Homo sapiens: one gene and its partners. The protein of the gene in region 1 purifies or fractionates together with the protein of each later gene. This does not show direct contact. Each region holds a gene or a part of one and is shown in the gene's direction. Other genes may lie near its edges.

Region 1 (4,192 bases):
AATTCAAACAGAGTAAATGTTCCCTTTGAGACTACCTATGCTCAGAACTGATGGATTAGCTGGCACGACCCAGACCGATAAACTGGCTCATCTGACCTAGTGTCCCCCAACCCAGGAACTGACTCGTGCAGAAAGACAGCTTCCACTCCCTGCGATTTCATCCCTGACCAATCAGCACTCCTGGCTCAGTGGCCTCCCCCAACCCACCAAATTGTCCTTAAAAATTCTGCTCCCCAGTGCTGCTCGGGGAGACTGATTTCAGTAATAATAAAACTCCAGTCTCCCATACAGCCGGCTTTGCGTGACTAAGTCTTTATTTGCAATCCCCCTGTCTTGTATCAGTTCTGGCTAGTCAGCGGGCAAGGTGAAGGCTTTCCTTGGGCGGTTACCATCCGAAGCTTTAATTTTAAGTATAATGGCAAGCTGTTGGAAAGCTTTTTTTTTTTTTTTTTTTTTTTTTTTTTTTTTTTTGAGATGGAGTCTGGCTCTGTCGCCCAGGCTGGAGTGCAGTGGCGCGATCTCGGCTCACTGTAACCTCCGCCTCCCGGGTTCAAGCAATTCTCTGCCTCAGGCTCCTGAGTAGCTGGAACTACAGGCGCCCGCCACCACCACGCCCGGCTACTTCTTGTATTTTTAGTAGAGACGGGCGTTCACCGTGTTAGCCAGGATGCTCCCGATCTCCTGACCTTGTGATCCGCCCGCCTCGGCCTCCCAAAGTGCTGGGATTACAGGCGTGAGCCACCCCGCCCGGCCTGGAAAGCTTTTTAAGTTCGGAAAGTAATACGATCTGGATTTCTTTTCTTTTATTTATTTATTTATTTATTTGAAAAAATGTCTCGCTCTCTTGCCCAGGCTGGAGTGCAGTGGCACGATAAATCACAGTTCGCTGCAGCCCCGGGCCCAAACAATCCCCCCGCCTCAGTCTCCGAAGTAGCTGGGACCACAGGTGTGTGCCACCACGCCTCGCTAAGTTTTTAAAATTTTTTTAATTTTTCATTTTTTAATTTTGTAGAGACGGGGAGGAGGAAGAGGGTCGGGGGCGGGGGGGGGGGCGCCTCCCTATGTTGCCCAGCCTAGTCTCGAACTCCTGGGCTTAAGAGATATCCCACCCCTTCGGTCTCCCAAAGTGCTGGGATTATAGGCGTCAGCCACCACCATCATTGGAAGCTAGCTAAGCCTAGGCTGGGCAGATACTTGGACACTTTGAGGGGAGAAGGGAGGGGAAGAAGTTGGAAGGGGGAACGGAAAACCACTCTCCTGGTAGCAGTCTCTGCCCACAACAAACCTTGCCTTCTGCCCTTAAGGAAAATGGCGCCTGGCATAGATGCGCTTCCGGCCACGGAGCCAAACAGAACAGAGGAGGCAAGAGGCCGGAAGTGACCGCCCTTTGCCACTCCCCCTGCCTCCTCTCCGCCTTTAACTTCTCGGGAAGATGAGGCAGTTTGGCATCTGTGGCCGAGTTGCTGTTGCCGGGTGATAGTTGGAGCGGAGACTGTGAGTGCCGGCTGCCTCGACAGCACGTTTGCGACGCTCGGAGTGACCTTCGAGCGACTGGGGACCGGGGGCGGGAGTCGTGCATGCAGCGTTGTGTGACGAGGCGCCGCCCGCCGCGGTCCTGTGGGAAAGGAGAGAGCCAGCTGTCGGGCGAACGGGGCTGGCGGCCGAGTCGAGCCCACGGAGCCCACGAGGCCGTGCTCGGGGGTGGGATTGGGGGATCCGGACCTAGACGGTCGTGCGCGGGGCGGGGGTGGGCTCTGGCCCTGACTCCTGCGCCCGGTGTGGGAAGGTGGGAGGCCTTTTCTAAGGCAGGTGTTCACACCGGCCGGACCGGGGCGTTACCCCCACCCGGCTTTTCCCACGCAGCTCCTTCGCGCGGTCATTTCTTGACTCTCTGGAAGAATCCGCCTTCTTTATGGCCACTGTTCCTTTCCATGTACACACCAGGATTAGACCGTGATTGTTTGTCTTTGGTGTCTTTTTCTTGAGAAACCACCTATGCTTTCTTAAACTTATAGTCCTTGAAGTTTCTGGTACTTTGGCTGGAAGCGTTAATGCCCTCTTGAAGCCTTACCTTTCTAAATGTCAGCCTCACATTGTGATCTTAGAATTTTATTTCCTCACTCTGCATATCCACTCCTACTCACCTAGAGCTTCAGGTTGAGAAACTTAGTAACTTCCTTATTGTGTGTGAATTTGGCTTCGCCTCACTAACCCTGTTCCCTGATGTACTTTAGAGTCACATGCAGTGACAAACTTAGTCACAATTAGTTTCGTCTTCACCAAAGGGAAATTGAGTAGAAATTGCAACCAAGATTTTGGCTAATAGATTTCACTTATTTTAGTGAAATATCATTCAAAAGTCGTCTCTAACTGTCTGACTAGAACACTCCCAAAAAAGAATTACCTAAAAACATTTTGCCAGCATAATTTATTTCATTGGGGAGTTGATGAATGTCACTGGTGTGTCATCAGTTTGCATGTCTATCATCCACTTTAGTTGGTGCTTTTCTAACTTTATCTCCCTCTAGTAGCATAATGGCAGAACCTGTTTCTCCACTGAAGCACTTTGTGCTGGCTAAGAAGGCGATTACTGCAATCTTTGACCAGTTACTGGAGTTTGTTACTGAAGGATCACATTTTGTTGAAGGTTAGTTCTTCTTAAGTTTTTAAAGTAATTACTGTTGAAAATATATAAAAGTGCTTATTCTTTCAACGTTAGTTATTGAACACATGTATAGGGCATTATACTGTATACTATGAGAAGTACCATAATGAATAAAACCCCTTTCTAACCTCCAGAAGGGGAAAATTAAATGGTATTAATAACAACTAAGAACTTTAGTATATTAATAGCTCATTTAATTTTCATCACCACTAGGTGATGAGAAATAGCTATGTTAATAGTTCATTTAATTTTCATCACCACCATCTGTCATTTTAAAGATGAAGAGACGAAGTCAAAGAAAAGTTAAACAGTTTGCCCAAGATCACACAGCTAATAAGTGCCCAGACAAAAAATCAGGCAGTCCACATTTAACCATTATACTTGTCTCCTCCCCAATTTAGCAGTTAAGCCAAGACCTCAGACATATCTCATTCTCTCAAATGAGGCTGAATTGCAGTGGAAAGGGGGAAAAAGGAGTTTCATAACTGTTAAAGGTGATGAGGAATGTCATGTCTTACTAGGGAATACTTCTTTTTTTTTTTTTTGAGACAGAGTCTTGTCTTGTTGCCCAGGCTGGAGTGCAGTGGCATGTTCTTGGCTCACTGCAGCCTCCACTTCCTGGGTTCAAGCGATTCTTCTGCCTCAGCCTCCCAAGTAAATGGGACTACAGTGCACGTGCCACCATGCCTGACTAATTTTTGTGTTTTTAGTAGAGACAGGGTTTCACCATATTGGCCAGGCTGGTCTCGAACTCCTGACCCCATGATCACCTCTCTTGGCCTCCCAAAGTGCTGGGATTACAGGTGTGAGCCACCACACCCGGCCAGGAATCCTTCTTTGGAGATAACTGTTGAAATTTTTTCTGGTTCTTAAGATTATGTACCTCTCGGCCAGGCGCCCTGACTCACACCTGTAATCCCAGCACTTTGGGAGTCCAAGATCGGCAGATTACCTGAGGTTAGGAGTTCAAGACCAGCCTGATCAACATGGTGAAACCCTGTCTGTACTAAAAATACAAAAATTAGCTGGGCCTGGTGGCAGACGCCTGTAATCCTAGCTACTCAGGAGGCTCGAGGAGGGAGAATCGCTTGAACCTGGGAGGCAGAGGTTGCAGTGAACCGAAGTCGCCCACTGCACTCCAGCCTGGGTGACAGAGTGAGACTCCATTTCAAAAAAAAAAAAAGATTATGCACCTCTCAACTATACAATGGAAAGGGAGGGATTCTGTAAATTTTTCCAGCGACAGTGGGGAAACCTTTGGTAGATTGGGAATCAAACTTTTTTTTTCATGTCTCTCCCAACCCTCTCTTACCATATTTTGAGCTCCTTTAGGGCAGGAGCCTGGGATTCATTGTATTCCTAGCACCAGACTTGACACAATTCAATGCTGAATGAGAAAAAAAAAATAGTAGTATAGAATCTTTGTTTCCAATTAGGAAATAATTTGAGCTGGCACAGTTGACTTTTTAAAAATATTTTTTTTTCTAAAAATAATAGGAAGTGAAAATGAAGTTAAATGTGTATTGT
Region 2 (3,500 bases), on another chromosome or scaffold:
CTTGTCAGTGGAGGATGTTACTATCTGCCTGACTCATTTTATTGAGTCAATGTGAGGTTCCAGCCATATGTGAAAGTCTTCCTTTACCATATATGTGCACAATACTAAACTGAAGAGGTTCCCTCAACCCCTGAAGAATGAGTACTTTCCCACTGGGAGTTAGACACATGGACGAGAGAACATGTGTGCATCCATGGGGCTGGAGAGTCAGTCTCATCCCTCGGCCAGCCAGGCTTTGGGACCCTGCCATGTGTTCTCCAGGTCTCCTGGACTGGCCACAGTGATGGGTGCTCATGGTATGCCTGGGGATGTGATACCTCTAGAGATATAGATCTGGAATCACTGGGATGCAGAAGGCAAGTGAAGCCATGGATGTAGATGAGCTACTCTCAGATGAGAGGATAGAGTAAGAAAAGAAGGGAGCCTTGGACTGATCTTTGGGGAATTGCATCATTGAGAGAAGCAGGTAGAAGATCAGGAGACAGCAACAAAACCTGAGAGAGAATGGCCAGAAAAATGGGAATACTAAGTATGGTATTTTTGAAGCCAGCAGAAGAGAACAATCACGTGCTAAAAGAAAGGAAGAAGGATCATGAAGAGGGGAGAAGAGGAGAGATACATTGCAATTAACTGATATTTTAAAACTCCAATACACACAATTTTATCAAAAATACAACCAATACATTGACTAAAAAAATTAACAGGAAACACACCAAAATGCTAATAGTAACAGTTTTAGATGACTGAAATTGTTTTTTCTTTTTTCCATATAGTCTGTGATGTACTTATGTCATTTTTACCATTGAATTACTGTATTTAGTAATAGAAGATATATGGGTATGAATACCTCAAATTGGTGTAAGAGAAAAGGCTATCTGCATAGACCTGAGAGAGAGAAAAATACACACACACACACACACACACACACACACACACACAAAATAATCAGTTGTTGAGCTTAACCATAGAATCTCATGGTAGGATTTGGCCTGATTTACTTTTCTATCCAAAAATATTTTCTTATTGTTGTTTTAAGTGAGAATGGTCACCAGGTGAATTTCAACAGGTCTAGAAGCTTTAATTGTCCATCTCATGATACCTGTAATGCCTAGGAGTCCAGATCTCAGGGACTAGAATCAAGGACTCCTCAAACAATCCCTGTGGTAGAACGCATTGCTTACAGCTCACCAATGCTCAGGGCCCCATCCTGTGGAAGGAATGTGCTTCCTCGCATCCCCAACATCAGCCTTAACCATGTGACTTCTTTGGCTACCAAAACATGAGCACAAGTGATGTGTGCCACTTCTGGGATGGAAGTTTTAAGAACCAACACACATTCGCCATGCTTTCGCTTCTGTCACTGTGATCCGCACAGGTCCAGGTGTTTACTGCTCTAAGAGTCTAGGTCCCAAAGCATGGACAATGACATGGAGGGAAGCCTCAGCCAACCTGGAATGATCATGTGTGTGAGCAAGAAATACATTCTTATTGCTTAAAACAACCGAGATCTGGGGGACAACTGCTTGTTACTGCAGCCTGTTCTGACAGATAGAGTCTTCTGGAATTCCAAAAGAAATACATATATATCTGTGTGTGTATATATGTATGTATATGTATATGTATATGTATGTATGTATGTATGTATGTCAGCAATACCATCCCTTTCTCAAGAAACCTAATTTTTAAGTCTTCTTTCCTTCTCTAGATGATGCATATTTACTACAGGGGCTTAATATAGAGGAACTATATCCAGAGACCTCTAGTTTCATCACTTACGATGGGTCGATGACTATCCCACCCTGCTATGAGACAGCAAGTTGGATCATAATGAACAAACCTGTCTATATAACCAGGATGCAGGTGAGTTTCTCTCTGGTCATTTAGCTAATGGAGAAGAATGATGTTAAAAAAAAATCACTGAAATGTGGAGTGCCTATTATAATAGTTTACTAGGACCACTATAACAAAGTCCCACAAACTGGGTAGTTTAAACTAACACAAACTTATCGCCTCACAGTTCTGGAGACTAGAAGTCCAAGATCAAGGTGTCAGCAGCGTTGCTTCCTTCAGCGGAATGTGAGGAAGAATCTGTTCCATGCCTCTCCCCTAGCTTCTAGTGGTTTGCTGACAATCTTTGACGTGCTTTGGCATTTAAAAGCACCACCCCAAGCTCTACCTCCATCTTTTTTTTTTTCTTTTTTGAGATGGAGTCTCGCTCTTGTCACCCAGGCTGGAGTGCAGTGGCGTGATCTTGGCTCACTGCAACTTCCACCTCCTGGGTTCAAGCGATTCTTGTGCCTCAGCCTCCTGAGTAGCTGGGATTACAGACACGTGCCACCACGCCCGGCTAATTTTTATACTTTTAGTAGAGATGGGGTTTCATCATGTTGGCCAGGCTGGTCTTGAACTCCTGACCTCAGGTAATCCATTTGCCTCGACCTCCCAAAGTGCTGGGATTACAGGCGTGAGCCACCACACCCAGCCTCTACCTCCATCTTTATAAGGTGTTCTCCCTGTGTCTGAGGCTCTGTGTCCAAATTTCCCCTTTTTATAAAGGCACCTTCTGTATTCCATTAAAGCCTAACCCCAATAAGCTTGTCTTAGCTCATTCCATCTGCAATGACTATTTCCAAATAAGGTCACATTCTGAGCAACTAGGGGTTACCAGTACCTTCAGCTTATGAATTTCAGGGGTACACGATTCAACCCATATGCCTGGGTTTAAAGAGCCAGCATCCAAAAGGCTTAGCCTGAGCTAATTATAGAAGCATCTCAACTGTCTCAGTGGGAAAAGATAGCCATTAATTCCCAGAGTGTATTCTACAACTACAGTGTTCAGAAAGCAAGCAAGCAAAATGGAAGATGTCATTATGCATTTGAAAAAGTTGGGTTTTAAAAAGTTAAATAGATTCCATTGTTGAAGGATTTCTGGGGTCCTTCTTAAATGCTAATATATGTGTCAGTCTTCAAGAGGAAGTGGTATGATATGTAGTATTTTGCACACATATTTGAATGTGCAGTGTTTTTTTTGGATCATCTCACAGAGTTAGTACTCATCAGAACTGGATGGGAGGCAGATGGGTCCTCCTGTGTGAGCTTGGCTACACGGCTTATTGTGCTCTTCAGGCCTGTCACCCACCTCTATGAAATGAACACTCCTCTTCTTTATTGAGAGGGGGATAAATTACATGAGTTTGCTCCAGCTCTGACATTCTACGACTGTGGGAGTCTATAACAAATTAAAGGAGAGATGAGCAAAGGAAGCAGAAGCCAATATCCTTGACGGGATATGTGTTCCCACCTGACCACCATTTGAACAATTTGAAGTTCCTTAACCTATCTGTATTGAATGGGACCCACTGGGTGACAGGCAACAGTAACTCCCCACTTAAGCTTAGAAAAAGCATTTATTTGAGAGCTACGAGGGCATCTTAGAGAATTTAAAATCAGAAATTGACATCAGAAATTCACTGAAATGGGAACCCCAGAAGTGCTTTCTC
Region 3 (4,295 bases), about 140 Mb from region 1:
GTGCATAGTTATCAACATCACTACTGCACAAAGAAAAATAAGCCTTGCAGCTTAGAACAAAGGGTAGCAAAGTATTCAATCACCAGGCAGGTTTGTAATTTTGTTTCGTTTTGTTTTTTGAGATGGAGTCTCGCTCTGTCGCCCAGGCTGCAGTGCAGTGGCACGATCTCGGCCCACTGCAAGCTCCACTTCCTGGGTTCACGCCATTCTCCTGCTTCAGCCTCCCGAGTAGCTGGGACTACAGGCGCCTGCCACCACACCCGGCTATATTTTTAGCAGAGACGGGATTTCACCATGTTAGCCAGGATGGTCTCGATCTCCTGACCTCGTGATCGGCTCGCCTCGGCCTCCCAAAGTGCTGGGATTACAGGCGTGAGCCACCGCACCCGGCCTGTAATTTTTTTTTTTTTTTTAATGTTTATACTTTCCTTAATCCTTTCTGGGAATAACCTCCTCTGGGACCACTTTCCTTCCTGTTCTATGTACCTCAGAAGCACAGGAATGAAGCCTGAAAAAATATTATCTTGCTCCCTAAGTCACTTTCCTTTCTGATCTAGTTCTTGGGTGATGAATGAAGGTGGAAAGTAGCGAAGGTTGCTATGAAAAGCTTGGACTTTATTACCAGGGCCACTGCATTTTCAACAGGAGTGTCAGGATCCCAGCAGTAATGCTTTTCCATGGATCAGCCAGACAGGCATAAGGGGAAGTTGGGAGACCAAAAAAGCCATTGACAGATTCCAGGTGAGCAATAAACCAGAATTTTGACCAACTAGACCAGCGCTGTCCTACAGAAATGTAATGGGAGCCACATGTTAAAGTTTAAATGTTTTACTAGCCACATTTAAAAAGAAACACATGAAGTTATTATTATTTGTTTTAGAGACGGGGTCTTGCTTTGTCGTCCACGCTGGTCTCCAACTCCTTGGCTCCCTCAAGCAATCCTCCAGACTAGGCCTCACAAAGTGCTGAGATTACAGGCCTGGGCCACTGCCCCCGGCCTGAAGTTAATTTTAATATTTCACCTAACCCAATATATCCAAAATATCATTTCAACATATAAAAATTATTGAGATTTTACCTCACCAGTCTTAGACATCCAGCGTGTGGTTTATGCATACAGTACATATCAATTCCACACTAAATTTTCAGCATTTAAAGGGAAATATGGTCCTGAAAAAAAAACAACAAAACAAAAAAACGCCTGTTTAAGGAGAAAGCATTCCACACTGCTTGTTTTAATATAATTAAAATTAATGTATCAATTAATAAATCAATAGCCCACGTTGGCTAGTGGCTGCCTTACTGGGCAGACCAGGTCTGGATTGTAAATACGTTCAGACGTTCCACGCAAAAGCAAAGTTCCCTGCAGACGCTCCATTAAGTTCTGGGTGCAAGGAAGCGCGGATCCTTCAGTTCTGGGCGTTTTCACCAGGTGGCACTCAGAACACCCTCACGTGACAAGCGTCCCACCCGGAAGCGAAATCTCCCCTTCTACAGAGTTCCTCCGGCGCTTCCTCCACCCCGGGATACACAGAACCTCATCTCCTACGGTGCTGAAGCCTGCAGCAGGGCAGGATGGGCAGGAGAGCAGAGCCGCGGAGTCTGCGGCGCGGGTGAAGAGCGGCGCGTAATTCCCGCAGCAAGATTGTTCCGCGCCCGCAGCCCCTGGACTAGCAGGATCCGAACCCCGGCGGCTGCGTGCTTATAGGCGCAGACGTCAGAGAGCCCGCGGCTTAAAGCGCGTCGCCTGGCTAGCGCCACCCCCTAGCCTTCTTCAAGGCCTCCAGGGCTGGGCCCAAGCGCCCGTCGACGGCACCCTGGGCCCAGAGGACTCGCGGGCCTCATCTCCAATGATTCAGAACTCACGTCCGTCGCTGCTGCAACCCCAAGATGTCGGAGACACGGTGGAAACGCTTATGGTGAGGGCACTGCGGGGAAGGAAGGGCAGGGGTCCGAACCGCGGGCTCGGGCCGGAGAATTCGGGGCGTTGCTAAGGCTCGGCTACCCTTTTCCGCGCCCCAGGGTGCGCTCAGGATTTAGGATGCGGCGGGAGAGGAGTCTGACTAAGGGAATTGAGAAGGGGGCAGGGAGTGAGGAGAGGCCAGGAGCTGCAGGCCAGCCCTGGGGGCAGGCGCTGTAGGGCCGATGTCCCGGTAAAGGGCGGAATTGCCGGGGCCTGGACTGGACGCGTGCCGGGGAGTGTGCCCGCGCGGCCCCCACAAGGTGCGAGTAGGCTGCCAGGTGGAAGGGCACCCGGGCAGATTTGGGACGGTCACAAGGCCTGATAATAGCGCTGACGCTGAGAAGCCGTTGATGCCGCAGCGAGCTGGCCGGGTAGCGCTGTGCGCCCGCGGGCGGCGGCCTACCTGGAGGGGCCAGTCGTGGCGGCACCCTTCCAGCCTGTTGGGACGGCGCGTGGTCCCCCAGCGACGCCACGCCTCCTCCGGCGTTCGATTGGTCATCGTGCCCGGGCCGCCGGGCCGCTATTGGTGGAGGCGGAGGCGGGGCTGGCGGCGTGGTTGCCCGGTAGGTGGAGTCGGGGTGCAACCAGTCTTTAGACGCTAAAGGCCTGAGGCCACTGCAGCTGCCGCAGCTCTCCCTCTGAGGTCTTGCGCCCGAGGTAGGGGCGGCTTTTATTTTTTTTTTTAATCCTTAAAGGCGGAGACGGCGGCGGTGGCGACTTTACGTTGACGTCTTTGAAAACCTGCTTACCTTTTTCAGGGCTCTCCAGCCCTCGCCTCCAGATGTGAATTGGACTTAGGATAGTTTTTTCAGGGCAGTAGGAATTGCTTGTGGATCCAGTTTGTACTCTTATGTGCTACTTATTTCGTGTGCGTATTATTGTTTATGCCCTCTTCTTTCTCCCCTTAAAAAGAAACTACTTTTTTATTTACCTTGAATATATTTTTGAGCTTTCTTTTCTTTTTTCTTTTTTTTTTTTTTTGAGACAGAGTCTCGCCCTGTCGCCCGCGCTGGAGTGCAGTGGCGTGATCTCGGCTCAACTGCAACCTCTGACTCCCGGGTTCAAGTATTTTTCCTGTCTCAGTCTCCCACGTTGCTGGGATTACAGGCGTGCGCCACCACGCCCGGCTAGTTTTTGTATTTTTAGTAGAGAGAGGGTTTCACCATGTTGGCCAGGCTGGTCTTGAACTCCTGACCTCAAGTGATCCGTCTGCCTCGGCCTCCTAAAGTGCTAGGATTACAAGTGTGAGCCACCGCGCTTGGCCTTGAGCTACTTTTTAAAAGTTAAGTTCACTCGCAAAGGATGTGTGCCATTCACCATTGACAAAAATCTTAAGACCATTCAGTATTACCTGTTGGGATGGTTTTTGTTGTTGTTGTTGTCTTGTTTTTGCCTATTAGAAGTTGATCTATACTGCTAGTATAAATAACATCTGCTCTGTGCTAATGGACTGGGAAAAGTACAAAGCTAAAAAAGTTATTGGCTCAATAACTTGAGCCAATAACATGTCTAATCACTGTGCTGTGAAATAAAAGACGTTAAGAAGATATTTCCTGCAATCAAGGGTGGGAAGGTCAAGGACAGCAGCAAATTTGTTTTAAAACAAATTCCACACAGCACCTGTGTGAGCACTGGGGAAGCAGCGCCTAACATAACTGCCCAGAAACTAACTGCAGGTCATTCCTATAGCCTTGCTGGAGCAAGGGGCCTGGAGAGAGGTGGGGGAGATTAACCCATCCTGGGATGAGTCATGCAGGGCCCACCGAGCCCTATCATGTGGGATTGTGCTCAAAGGGAGAGCATAAGGTTTCCTGTTAGGTGGTAAGATTCATTCCGCTGTCACTGCTGAACACCTACTGTGCACCAGGCTCCGAGGTCAGTTCTTGAGATATCACCATGAACAAGACAGGCAGGAGTTGTGACTATTCTGTCTTTGACACGCAGTCATAAGGGAGATGGGGACAGGTGTTGCTGTAGAAGCCGGAAGGAGAGGCACTGAACTTGGACATGGGGGAGTTAGGGAGCAAGACCGGTGCTAGGGCATAACAACATGTCAGAGTTTTCAGAGGTGAAAGTAAGGCGGAGTCCTCCAGTATGGCTGCAGAGTGTGTTAGTGGGAGGGTGAGAACATAGGCCAAAACGGTTAGCAGGAGCCCTGTGATACATGAAAGGCCCTGCAACCAGCAGTTTGGACTTTATCCTGAGAGGAATATGAACCAATTAAAGGGTATTGGTTTGGTTGGGTTTTTTAAAATTATAATTCAATTAGTATTAATGACAAATTTGTGGGATACTCTGTAGCTCCTAATACATTTGTCATTACTTGTATTTT
Region 4 (3,500 bases), on another chromosome or scaffold:
GCTACTAGGGAGGCTTTTGAACCCAGGAGGCAGAGGTTGCAGCGAGCTGAGATCGCGCCACTGCACTCCAGCCTGGGTGATAGAGTGAGATTCAGTCTCAAAAAAAAAAAAAAAAAAAAGCTGTGCGAAAATATTTGTTTTTCTCTGGGGCCTTTTCTTTCTTTTCTTTTTAAACTATACCAGAAATTTTACATCACAGTTTTTATACAAAGTGGGACCTTCCATACTTTTTGTATTACAATAACCTTCAGAAGCCCATTCCCCTTAAAGTCTGTTGTTCTTGTTTTAATCATCACCACATATAAATGTTTTAGCTTTGTCTTAAACTGTGAGTCTTCATAAAATTGTGTTCCTCCGAGTTCACCTTCTAGGACTTTATTGATTAATCCTTCTCTTTCTGCTATACCAGCAGACACATATTCATAGAATATGATTATTTTTAAAGAACAAGGTGAGGAGGCTGAGGCAGGAGAATTGCTTGAACCTGGGAGATGGAGGTTGCAGTGAGCTGAGATCACGCCACTGCACTCCAGCCTGGGTGACAGAGTGAGAGACTCCGTCTCAAAAATGAATGAATGAATGAATGAATGAATGAACGAACGAACAAGGTGGTTTAATGTCAGAAAACTTCCTAAGCATTTGCTCCCCAAACCTTTCATGTTTTTCAAGAAGCCTTTATTACATAAAGGGGAATAGAATTAAAATGTTTCTTTATAAGAAAAATATACATATTTGTGTTCTTGGCCCCATTAAAACTAGTCAGTAGTCCTTTGGCAAAGATATAGTCAACAAGAGAACTGGGTATGAGTCCAGGCATTACTCCTGTTCATAGTTGTGGATGCATGTGTCTGAGCCAGACTGTCTCAACTGGAGTCTCTTGGGTTATAGCAGTAAACCCGTGTATTCCATGAAACCACTGGGCCCATCATCAAAAGGTTTCCACTTGTGGTGCCACAGTTGCTTATTACTGAGTTTGGGTTCCAAGATGACTGGCAACTTCTGAAATAATCTCATTGAAGGAAAGAGTTTCATTTTTTTTTTAAAAGAGTTTGCTGGAGGAAAAGAAGCATGTTAAATGTTTTTAAGCAGCTAAAAGTCCTAGATGGAAGCATATCAGGATGTGTCGGTGCTTGGCTCTTAGTGAATGCACTAAAATTCTTATTGATAAATGTTGAATAAACACACACAAAAAAGTATCAGAGAAAGAGAAAAACCCTACAATGGCAATAGAGGTGTGTGACAGTTATTGCTATCAATTTTACATAATATCTCATTTAAAAACAACCTAATTATGCATTGCCTGTGAAAATAAAAGGATAAAATAAGATTTTGTACATACTGTAAGAATACAGTTGTGCTGTATTTTTATGGATTCATCAAGGAGTAAAATGTTCTGCTTTAGTAAATTATATAGGTAACTGAAGTGTTATTCCTTTAAAGAGCAAAATAATTTATCACCATGTTTGGTGGAAAATTTCTAAGTATTTATTACATGCCTAGGGGTTAGCCAACAAGATATACCAAGCATGAAAACCTGTAAAACTTAATAAAATGCTAAAATATGAACATCACACTATGGAGATTATGCCTCACTACTCAAAGAGTGTGGCTCAGGAACCAGTGTAGCTTGGCCATGCCCTGGCAGTATGTTGGAAATGCCTGCCCCAGACCAGTTGATGTTACTAAGAACGCCCAGGGGATGAGAATGGACTTTATTTACAGTTTGGGAAGCACTGGTCTAATATGCTCTCAGGGAAGCTGAGGTTTCTACTGCTTTTTACTTTTTACCCTTCCACTAGATGTCCTTTGCAGCAGTGTTTTTCTAGTTGGCATTACAGGTGTCTCCTCTGAGGTTCCAGTTATTTCTATACTACCAAAATTAAAAAGACCCAAGGGCTGGGCATGGTGGTTCACACCTGTAATCCCAGCACTTTGGGAGGCTGAGGCAGGCAGATTGCTTGAGCTCAGGAGTTCAAGACCAGCCTGGGCAACATAGGGAGACCCCTGCCTCTACAAAAATACAAATGAGCCAGGTGTGGTAGCCCACACCTGTGGTCCTAGCTACTTGGAAGGCTGAGGCAGGAGGATCGCTTGAGCCCAGGAGATCCAGGCTGCAGTAAGCCATGATCATGCCACTGCACTTCAGCCTGGGTGACAGAGACTCTGTTTCAAAAAAGGGAGGGGGGGCAAGTTTTTAGGGGGATGAGAAATATTCTTGGTAAATCGGGCATTTCTTTTTTTGTTTGTTTTTTTTTCTTGGAGACAGAATCTTGCTCTGTCACCCAGGCTGGAGTGCAGTGGCTTGATCTCAGCTCACGGCAACCTCCGCCTCCCAAGTTCAAGCGATTCTCCCACCTCAGCCTCCAGAGTAGCTGGGATTACAGGCAACCGCCACCATGCCCAGCTAATTTTTTTGTATTTTTAGCAGAGATGGGGTTTCACCGTGTTGGCCAGGCTGGTCTCAAGCTCCTGATCTCAAATGATCCGCACGCCTTGACCTCCCAAAGTGTTGGGATTACAGGCATGAGCCACAGCCTTAATTGGTAATTTTTGAAAAAAAAACTAGAGAAACATTGTTTCAGAGATAAAGCAGCAATTACACTTGTACTCCCAGTGATTTAAGATGCACTATTGTAATCAAGATGATTTGCTTTAATCAAAATATTGTTAAAAATAGGATTTCAGGACATTTAAAAGGTTTCAGCAGAAATCTTATGATTATGTCTGACTTGCAGTATTTTATTTGCCTCTTTGACGGCTTTTTTTTTTTTTTTTTTTTTGAGACAGAGTCTCACACTGTTGCCTGGGCTGGAATGCAATGGCGCAGTCTCAGCTCACTGCAAACCTCCGGCTCCCGGGTTCAGGCAGTTCTCCTGCCTCAGCCTCCCTAGTAGCTGGGATTATAGGCATGTGCCACCACACCCGGCTAATTTTTGTATTTTTAGTAGAGACAGGGTTTCGCCATGTTGGTCAGGCTGGTCTTGAACTCCCAACCTCAGGTGATCCGCCCGCCTCGGCCTCCCAAAGTGCTGGGATTACAGGCGTGAGCCACTGCGCCCAACCTTAATGGCTTTTTGGTATTAAAAACCAGGACTCTGAATGTGCATCAATAATTCAAATAATTTTATATAGTTACTCTTTCTAGTAATAGATACCCCCCTCCATTTTTAAGTAAAGATAAACATTTTTTAATTAGGAAAATTAGGCACATTTAATTTTAGCAAATTTAGTTTTTCAACTTTTTTTTTTTTCTTTTTTTTTTTTTTTGAGATGGAGGCTCACTCTGTTGCCCTGGCTGGAGTGCAGTGGCCGCAACCTCGGCTCACTGCAACCTCCGCCTCCTGGGTTCAAGTGATTCTCCTGCCTCAGCCTCCCGAGTAGCTGGGATTACAGGCGTGTGCCACCACACCTGGCTAATTTTTGTATTTTTAGTAGAGACGGGGTTTCACCATGTTGGCCAGGCTGGTCTTGAACGACTGGCCTCAGGTGATCCGCCCACC

What was found. Proteins that work in one complex are often made in the same cells at the same time.
Region 2: the proteins of MFN1 (region 1) and CA10 purify together in Homo sapiens (co-immunoprecipitation; one large-scale study listed by IntAct). This does not show direct contact.
Region 3: the proteins of MFN1 (region 1) and SLC25A38 purify together in Homo sapiens (affinity purification with western blotting; one study listed by BioGRID). This does not show direct contact.
Region 4: the proteins of MFN1 (region 1) and SYAP1 purify together in Homo sapiens (affinity purification with mass spectrometry; one large-scale study listed by BioGRID and IntAct). This does not show direct contact.

Annotation. Positions count from the first base shown.
Region 1 is NC_000003.12:179,346,317-179,350,508, forward strand, and holds the start of MFN1 (mitofusin-1), read left to right. Parts: upstream 1-1,392; 5' UTR 1,393-1,494; intron 1,495-2,528; 5' UTR 2,529-2,535; coding exon 2,536-2,647; intron 2,648-4,192. UniProt on the Homo sapiens protein: Mitochondrial outer membrane GTPase that mediates mitochondrial clustering and fusion. Membrane clustering requires GTPase activity. It may involve a major rearrangement of the coiled coil domains.
Region 2 is NC_000017.11:51,634,215-51,637,714, reverse strand, and holds part of CA10 (carbonic anhydrase-related protein 10 precursor), read left to right. Parts: intron 1-1,705; coding exon 1,706-1,860; intron 1,861-3,500. UniProt on the Homo sapiens protein: Does not have a catalytic activity.
Region 3 is NC_000003.12:39,381,875-39,386,169, forward strand, and holds the start of SLC25A38 (mitochondrial glycine transporter), read left to right. Parts: upstream 1-1,495; 5' UTR 1,496-1,850; coding exon 1,851-1,919; intron 1,920-2,366; exon of another isoform or gene 2,367-2,451; intron 2,452-2,560; exon of another isoform or gene 2,561-4,295. UniProt on the Homo sapiens protein: Mitochondrial glycine transporter that imports glycine into the mitochondrial matrix.
Region 4 is NC_000023.11:16,761,112-16,764,611, forward strand, and holds part of SYAP1 (synapse-associated protein 1), read left to right. Parts: 3' UTR 1-3,500.